Regions from separate parts of the Homo sapiens genome. Here region 2 is linked to region 1. A link means that fine-mapping ties the variant in region 1 to the expression of a gene that starts in the linked region. Tissue or cell type: aorta. Region 1 holds a variant in brackets; the other region holds the start of a gene. All regions are shown on one strand. Distances are from middle to middle.

What was found. PIP is the estimated chance that this variant, and not a neighbour inherited with it, causes the effect. A credible set is the group of variants that fine-mapping cannot tell apart.
Region 2: SLC16A4 starts here. The variant in region 1 is the best candidate, but not a certain one, in a credible set for the expression of SLC16A4 in aorta (GTEx, PIP 0.69).

Annotation. Positions count from the first base shown.
Region 1 is chr1:110,321,386-110,325,617 of GRCh38, forward strand. All of the region lies in intron 1 of RBM15-AS1 (RBM15 antisense RNA 1), which reads right to left. Among named protein-coding and RNA genes, the nearest start is that of RBM15-AS1, 16 kb to the right of the region's middle. The variant A/C (reference allele first, on the strand shown) is at 1,627.
Region 2 is chr1:110,388,962-110,393,204 of GRCh38, forward strand. SLC16A4 (solute carrier family 16 member 4) reads right to left here and starts at 2,065. Exons shown (of 9, transcript NM_004696.3): 1 at 1,904-2,065; 2 at 276-394. The coding sequence starts at 362.

The DNA.
Region 1 (4,232 bases):
AATGGAAAAAAAAAAACAAGATCCCCAGGTGATTTTGATTTTGATTCTGACACCAGTTGACAAACCTTAACCTACAAAATACAGTCCTTCAGAGCCCATTATTCTACACCCCCTTTTGTTAAACATAAAAATCTCACCACCATCCTCAAGAAGACAATGGTTTTGCTGCAGAACCTCTGGAACTTCTATATTTACCTATATTTATCCAGTTTTCCTAGTTTGAGCTTTAATTTCTGTAATTCATATTATGAAAACAATAATTTTATTCTCATTCTTGTTATATAAATGTATAAAATTGAATCTATAAATTAATATTTTATGTAATGTGGTTTTAAATATGCATGTTTGTAAAATTTATAAGTTAAATTGCAACAGTAGGAATACATTTTTCATATGCAATCCCCCTTCAGATACACATTGTTCCCTTCACCATCCCCTTCCATGCCTCCAGAGAACGTAATACTCTGCCTCACTGTGTTGAAAACCACTACTTTAGCTAGTGAGGGCTCCCTAGAGATCCCTGTTTGTGCTGTTATCTCCACCTGGAAGACTATTTGTTTCTTTGACAAATATTTGTTGAAAATTTAGCACGTGCCAGGCATGGTGCTATGCGATGTACCCCCTCCCCCCATAGAGAAGTAATCGATTCTTTCTCTGAGGGCCACAGGCCCTGAGTGTGCACTTCTATAACAGCCTCTCCACTCCATGATATAGTTAGCTGACTCCTTCACTACACTGTGCAGCCTCTAAGGTCAGGGACTACATCTTGTTCATCTTTGTATCCGTCACTGGCACAGTGCCCAACACCCAGTAGGAACTCAATTAATGTGGAGGAATGAGTTAATAAACCAATGATGATAGTCCAGTGTCTGGCACAGCATAGATGACCAATAAATATTGGTTGAAATGAAATTGAATTGAAAGTGCAGGTCACAGAAACAAGGGCAGAAAGAATTTAAAGAAAGAGGAGTTGTGACACTGTCAAAAAGATACCAAAAGATCAAAGAGGGTTAGCACTGGGGTGAAAAAGAAAGAGAAAACATTGGATTTGATGAAACTGAATTTAATATTAAGTCCTAGCATTAGCAGCGATGGACAAAACATTTATCACAAAACCAACAAGATCAGTATTTAATTGTCTTCAGCGTGTTCATGGTACTTCTTTAAATCCAGTTACTAGGTATGTAAGTTCCTGTGAATGGTGCAGGTTTATTATGCCTCACTCTTTACTACATAGCCAGTTAAAATGCTCACACATAAAGATCTACTCACACTTGAATTTTAGGTTTAACAATAAAATTGTATTTTCTATGAAAAGATGAGACCACCAGCTAAGGTGTGATCACCCCAGATACTTTCTCTCTCCATTCATTCACCAAACAAATGTTTACTGTGCTACATACTGTGCTGAGTAGAGTCCATTCTTCAGCTAACTGTGCAGGTTCTATTTGTAGAACTTGTTTGTGCTTGTGGCGCCATTTAAAACATTTTAAATCCTAGACTTGCCTGGATTCCCAAGGCAGCTTGACTCTTGGGAAATTTCTCTCTCTCTCTCTCTTTTTTTTTTTTTTAAACAGAGTCTCACTCTGTCACCCAGGCTGGAGTGCAGTGGCGTGATCTCGGCTC[A/C]CTGCCACCTCCACCTCCACCTCCTGGATTCAAGCAATTCTTGTGCCTCAGCCTTCCAAGTAGCTGGGACTACAGGTGTGCACCACCACACCTGGCTAATTTTTGTATTTTTAGTAAAGATGGGATTTCACAGTGTTACCCAGGCTGGTCTCAAACTCCTGACCTCAAGTGATTCGTCTGCCTTGGCTTCCCAAAGTGCTGGGATTACAGGCATGAGCCACCGTGCCTGGCCAATTCTTGGGAAATTTCTCTTAGTACACATTTAGAACACTTCCTGCCATTTGCTGCTTCCAGAAACAGCACTAGCATTGGCATCCAAGTTGTCTCTCTTAAGTAGAAGTGCTGCCCCCAGTAGGTCCTGGTTTATATCCTGTGGTCAAATAAGTTGAGGGCTTCTTTACTGCAGGATTTGACAGTCTTTTATATGAAAATATGTGTGTGGGGGGTAGAGATGGAGGCTTAAATAATATGGTATAAAGTGTTTTCTAAAGTCATTTGACTTTTTACTCAACTTCATTTTATAGGATATTTGAAAATATTATCATAGATTACGTTCATTCATTCACTCAGCAACAATTTTTGTGTGCCAATTATGTGCCTGGCAGTGTGCTGAGACTGGATAAAATGGTGACTAACCAGACATACTGTCCTGACATTATGAAGACTTGGGGGGAGATACACATGAATCAAATGCACTAAACTGTAAATCAAATAATCATAAGAAATATGAAATTGTAATTTTGACAGGTGCAATAAAGAAAAGTCACATTACATGGCCAAATGAGAGCCTATAATAGGGAGCTTCAGTCTGGTCAGGGAAGGCTGCTCTGAGGAGGTGACCTGGGGCTGACATCTAAAGTATGAGTAGGAGTTCACATGGGGATGAGGGTGGAGAAGAGCATTTGCCCCAGGATGGGATAGAAAGAAAGCCAGTGAAAGAATGGAGAGCAAGATGAGGCTAGAATGATAGAAAAGGCCACACCATATAGGGCGCTATAGGCCATGTTGGGAATTTGTTTTTATCCAAGGAGTATGGAAGCCATTCAAATTGCTGAGTGGAGAACTCATCAGAGGTGAGCCAGAGTGAATCTAGGTGAGCTGTTTAAAAAGCTATTGAAGTGGTTCAGGATGGTGGTAACTTAGCCTAAGATGACGGTGGTGGAAGAGATGCTGAAAAAAATCAATTCATGTGTCTAGATCAATCCCTCTTCTACAAAGCAGTTGAACCCACACAGAGCTGGCTTTGTAATAACTCATAGATAACCATTCACTTCTCCAGAAATCTCCCCTCTGTACCTAAAGGATTGGGAATGGGGAAAGAAGTGGTCTGCTGTTACCTCAATTCATTCAAGCAAAGCATTGTGCAGAAACATGTCTTAAAATTAGAGATGTTCTCTGGAACATCTATTATTAGGATCTAAAAAGAGCCCCAGGACTCTCTTTCCAGCCTAACACCCACCTGTAACCATGCACTTTGGGGCCTACCATTTACTCTTCATGACTGCAAGTTTGATTTATGTACCTGGGAATTTCAAAGCTGGGAGGGATTATAGAAGTTATCATCACCCTCAACCATATGCAAAAATTCCTATATTTCTGAAAAACATCTCAAACAAGAGTCAACTCATTCTATACCCAATTATACTAATTATTAGCATCACAAATACAAGTCTTTCATCCTGTCCCCAAGCCTCTGGGGTCTTTAGAGTTTAAGCATCATCTCACAACTGCCCATAGCAATTCCTGACATTCTTACAGTTACCTACTCTCTTATTTACTCACAACAACTCCAGTTTACAGAGGGATTAGGTGCCATGCCCAAGGTTACACACTAAGGACACTTAGAGTCAGCACCCCTCATAAAACATTGCTTGGAATGTAATCAGAATTCTATACTGTGCATTCTGTACTGTCTGGAATGTTACAATGAACACATATAACTGGCCTGGTTTTCCCAGTCTGTGCTGGTCTACTTTCACTAAATTTTTATACTTGACAACTTTTTTTTTTTTGACAGATAAAATTCTATGTATTTATCGCATACAAGATATTTTGAAGGCTTAACTTATAAATATTTATATTTTAATTATTCATTGACTAATTTTTAAGTGTACCTGGTTTTTGTCCCCATATAAGCAAATTCTGGGTAGGAATCATATCATGATTTTCTCCCTGTATTTTAACTATTAGGCACATAAAACATGATTAATAATGATTAATTAGTTGATTTATTAAAGGAAATCACAATTTTATTTTTTTTTTGAAACAGAGTTTCGCTCTGTCACCCAGGCTGGAATGCAGTGACGTGATCTTGGCTCACTGCAACCTCTGCCTCCTGAGCTCAAGTGATTCTCCTGCCTCAGCTTCCCGAGTAGCTGGGACTACAGGTGCCCACCACCATGCGTGGCAAACTTTTGTGTTTTTTGTAGAGACGGGTTTTCGCTATATTGCCCAGGCTGGTCTCGAACTCTTGACCTCAAGCAATCCACCCGCCTCAGCCTCCCAAAGTGCTGGGATTTGAGGTGTCAGCCACCATGCCCTGCCTGGAACTTACAATTTAAAAATTTCATGGCAATACTGCTTTTACTCATGCTACATATATACAA
Region 2 (4,243 bases), 68 kb after region 1:
GGCCTCCCAAAGTGCTGGGATTATAGGTGTGAGCCCCCACACCCAGCCCAGGAACATTTCTGCTTTTGCTCTAGGGGCATTTTCAACTTTCTCCTGGGTTCGGCATGGGCCTCTGACTTTAGCAGTTTTTGGCAGCTCCTGGCCTTGTTCCTGCCCACCCCTCCACTCAGATGCCAAAGATTTCCTAAGTGATCCTATTCGTAGGCAGCTCTGAGCCTTTCTCCAGAAAGCCTGCTTTTAGGCAATAGGAAAGGGGGAAAAAAGTGAATTCTTACCAGGAAAAAATGAATCACAATCATCCATCCCCATCCTCCATCCAGGGTTTTAGTGTAAGGTTGGACCTTCCCCTCCCTCTTCAGCATGATGCCTCTTCTATTTTAAATGCAGAAGATCCCTGTGATAAATCCAAGACAGTTGATTCAGTGGACCAGAAACTAATCTAAACTTTTAAACTTTTTATCTGAAAGGGAACGTTCATACATTGTTGGTGGGAATGCAAATTAGTTCAGCCACTGTGCAACGCAGTTTGGAGATTTCTGAAAGAACCAAAAATTGAACTACCATTTGACCCAGTAATCCCATTCCTGGGTATATACCCAAAGGAAGATAAATTGTTCTACCAAAAAGCCACATGCACTTTTATGTTCACTGCAGCATTATTCACAATAGCAAAGACATGGAATCAACCTACGTGCTCATCAACAGTGGGTTGGATAAAGAAAATGTGATACATAGACACCATGGAATACTACACAGCCACCATAAAAAAGAACAAAATCATATCCTTTCCAGCAATATGGATGCAGCTGGACCATTATCTTGAGCAAATTGATGCAGAAACAACCAAATACTGCATGTTCTCACTTATAAGTGGGAGCTAAAAATTGGGTACATATGGACATAAAGAGGGGAACCACAGACACTGGGGACTACAAGATAGGGAGGGAGGAGGGTTGAAAAACTCCCTATTGGATGCTGTGCTCACTATCTGGGTGAGGGGTTCAATTATACTCCAAATCTCAGCATCAGACAATATGCCTTTGTAACAAACCTACACATGTACCCCCTGAATCTAAAATAAAAGTTGAAATGTAATACAAAACAGAAAAAAAACCTCTTTCCCTATGATATAAAACCACTTGTAATTTTTTTTTAACCCCTCAGTTACAGATGAAGTCTGCCTGATGCAACTAAGGACTTAGTTACCTGGAAAGCCTGATCTCAGTGACTGTGGGGTGGCCACTCCTAGAACTGTACTCAGTGTCCCTCCCCCCAGGTCTGCAAGCCAGTTTCTTGGAGAAGCTGTGCGTCACCCTGCTGGTCCTCCGGGTGAACTCTTAAGAGAAATAGAAAGGGAAGGCGAGCCTTGAGTTTAGGAATTCTCCTTAGAAAACACTTGCTAAATGTAAATATTTTTGGAGCTAAACAGACATGACAACGAAATGCGATACCCGCTTATTGAATATATCCTAGATCAGAAAAAAAAGTTGTAAAAGACAGTTTGTGGGGACAGTTGGGGAAATTTGAATATGGACTGTATAATACAGAATACTGTACCAAGGTTAACCTCTTGGAACCTCTTCCACAAGAGAATATTCTTAGGAGATACATGCTAAAGTATTCAGGAGTAACATGACACTATGCTACCTTCTCCCAATCGGTTCCGTAAAATAAACAAGTGTATATAAAGAATGATAGCAAAAAGAAAATGTAAATGTTCTGAGGAAGGGGGAACAGTACTCATTATTTCCCCTGTCGGGTCGAAGGCTGACTGTTTCTAACTGGAAAGGAAAGTCAGCTGGCAGGGTATGCGGAATGGCCATCTGGTGAGCAGGCTGGGTGGGGAGAGATGCCAGTCGTTGTTAGAAAACCAACCCAGCACACAGTCCCATTCCCATCTTACCTTTGATGTGGTGTTCAGCAAAGAAATCCTCCACAGATGGGGCAATTAAGGAAGAAAAATAAATTACACCGTTTTCTGGAATGTTACTCTTTTTCTAAGGCATTTCATTTTGCTGCATTGTGAAAACAAGTGAGCATTGTAAGAGCCAAGGAGGGCTCAGACGATTTAGGCCCTCCTGCTAGTGGACTTTACTTCCTGAGGGGAGGAGGAAAGACTGTGATTTGATGTCATCTCAGGCCCTCCCTCCACCCACAGTCACTCAGAAGGTAGAATTTTTTGCCGCAGGCTCAAAAGCAAGCATGAAGTAAACTAAGTGGAAAGTCCTTTTGGCGACTATGCTCAGGGCAGGGGGATGGGGCTCCAGAGCTCTCATACACTTGTCTTCAAATTTCCTCAGGGAACTTCTCACAACATGCTTATTTTACAGGAGAATATAAAACTCCTGGATGGGTGGTGAGAGAGGCATTTCCTGGGCCACAAACAGAAATCTTCAGTAAGCTCAACCCATTCGTGTGGCCTTTTGTATATTGACTAAAGATTCTGGTTACTAATTTGGGGTTTCAGACCCCATTTTAATTGCATTTTTGAGATCTGATTACCTCAACCACCTCCTGCAAAAGACGTATGCTCGTAGTAATTTTAATGAGATTTTTTTTATTATATTTTGGAAATGGTTAAGGCTGAGACCCCTAGAAAATTACTGGGATAATTCAACTTTCTCTTCCCATTTCCTCCCTCTACCCTCCACATAAAACAAAACAAAACAAACAAGTCAAATGGGAAATTGTCTTTCGTCTCCCACACCAATATTCCAGATTTTAAACCAGAGTATATTTTAGACGAAAGGATGTGTTTTTAGTTTTATCTGGAAAATCTGCACATATTTATGCATGTTCCTTTTTAAGAAGCAAGAGGCTTCTCAGATTCTTAAAATCAAACTCTATAATACTTTTTGATTAAAGTGCTTGCAGAAGGACAGCTTAGTGGTTTGGGAGGGTGCCCTGTAAGTGTAAGCATGGAAGGATTATGCAGTTACATGATGCTGGTGGCAAGGATCAAATAAACATTCAACAGAAGGAGAAAACCCAAAGAGAGAAGGCAAATAAATGCTTTTCAGAGAGCTGTTTGTAATTATGAATACACTCTAGACAACTTTTTTTTTTTTGAGACAGAGTCTCACTCTGTCGCCCAGGCTGGAGTGCAGTGGTGCAATTTCGGTTCACTGCAACCTCTGCCTCCCGTGTTCAAGTGATTCTCCTGCCTCAGTCTCCCAAGTACCTGGTACTACAGGCGCATACCACCACGCCCAGCTAATTTTTTGTATTTTAGTAGAAACGGGGTTTCACCGTGTTGCCCGGGCTGGTCTCAAACTCCTGAGCTCAGGCAATCCGCCTGCCTTAGCCTGCCAAAGTGCTGGGATTACAGACGTAAGCCACCGTGGCCAGCCTGAAAACATTTTTTAGTAAACAAGACTGATTTATTTATTTTTTTGGTGGCACGCTTGTTGCTCTTTTAAAGCAGGGCTATCTATGATTTCTTTTTTTCTTGAGACAGGGCCTGCTCTATTGCCCAGGCTGGAGTCAGTGGCATAATCATGGTTTACTGCAGCCTTGACCTCCCCAGCTCAAGCAATCCTCCTACCTCAGCCTCCTGAGTAGCTGGGACTACAGGCATGCACCACCATGCTCAGCTAATTAATTTTTTTTTTTTTTAAGAGATGGGGGTTTCACTCTGTTGCCCAGGCTGTTTGCAATGTCCTGGGCTCAAGCGATCCTCCCATCCTGACCTCCCAAAGTATTAGGATTACAGGCATAAACCACTGTAAGGAGCCAGCTATCCATAATTCTAATCACAGGATGAAATGATGCTAGGCTATATATATATTTTTCTTACACACACACACACAGAGGAATATATATATACACACATATACATATAGGAACATATACAACTGGGAAGTTAGATTTCAGGAGGGTTCCTACCATTCCTTAAATGATAATAGTGAATCATTGTGCCTAACCTATGTAAACAATACATTATATATGTGTGTATATATTCCTATTCATCTTTGTCTTATAATAGGCTTTATATTGATAGAGAACTCTGATGCTAATGCCTGGGGTCAGATTTGAAATGCGGCAGAACAGCAAGTCATTCATAGAGGCCAAGAGGACAGCAAAGTAATCAGAGATGAACTTCAAACATATGTTTCATAGAGGCACATGAACAGAAATGCAGGCTTGGTGATAATCTCAATTTTGTCAGTTTTTAAGCCCGTAGACTCTGGGCAATTTACTCTCTTTGAGTCTGTTTCTAAAACTCTAAAGCGTAGCTAATATT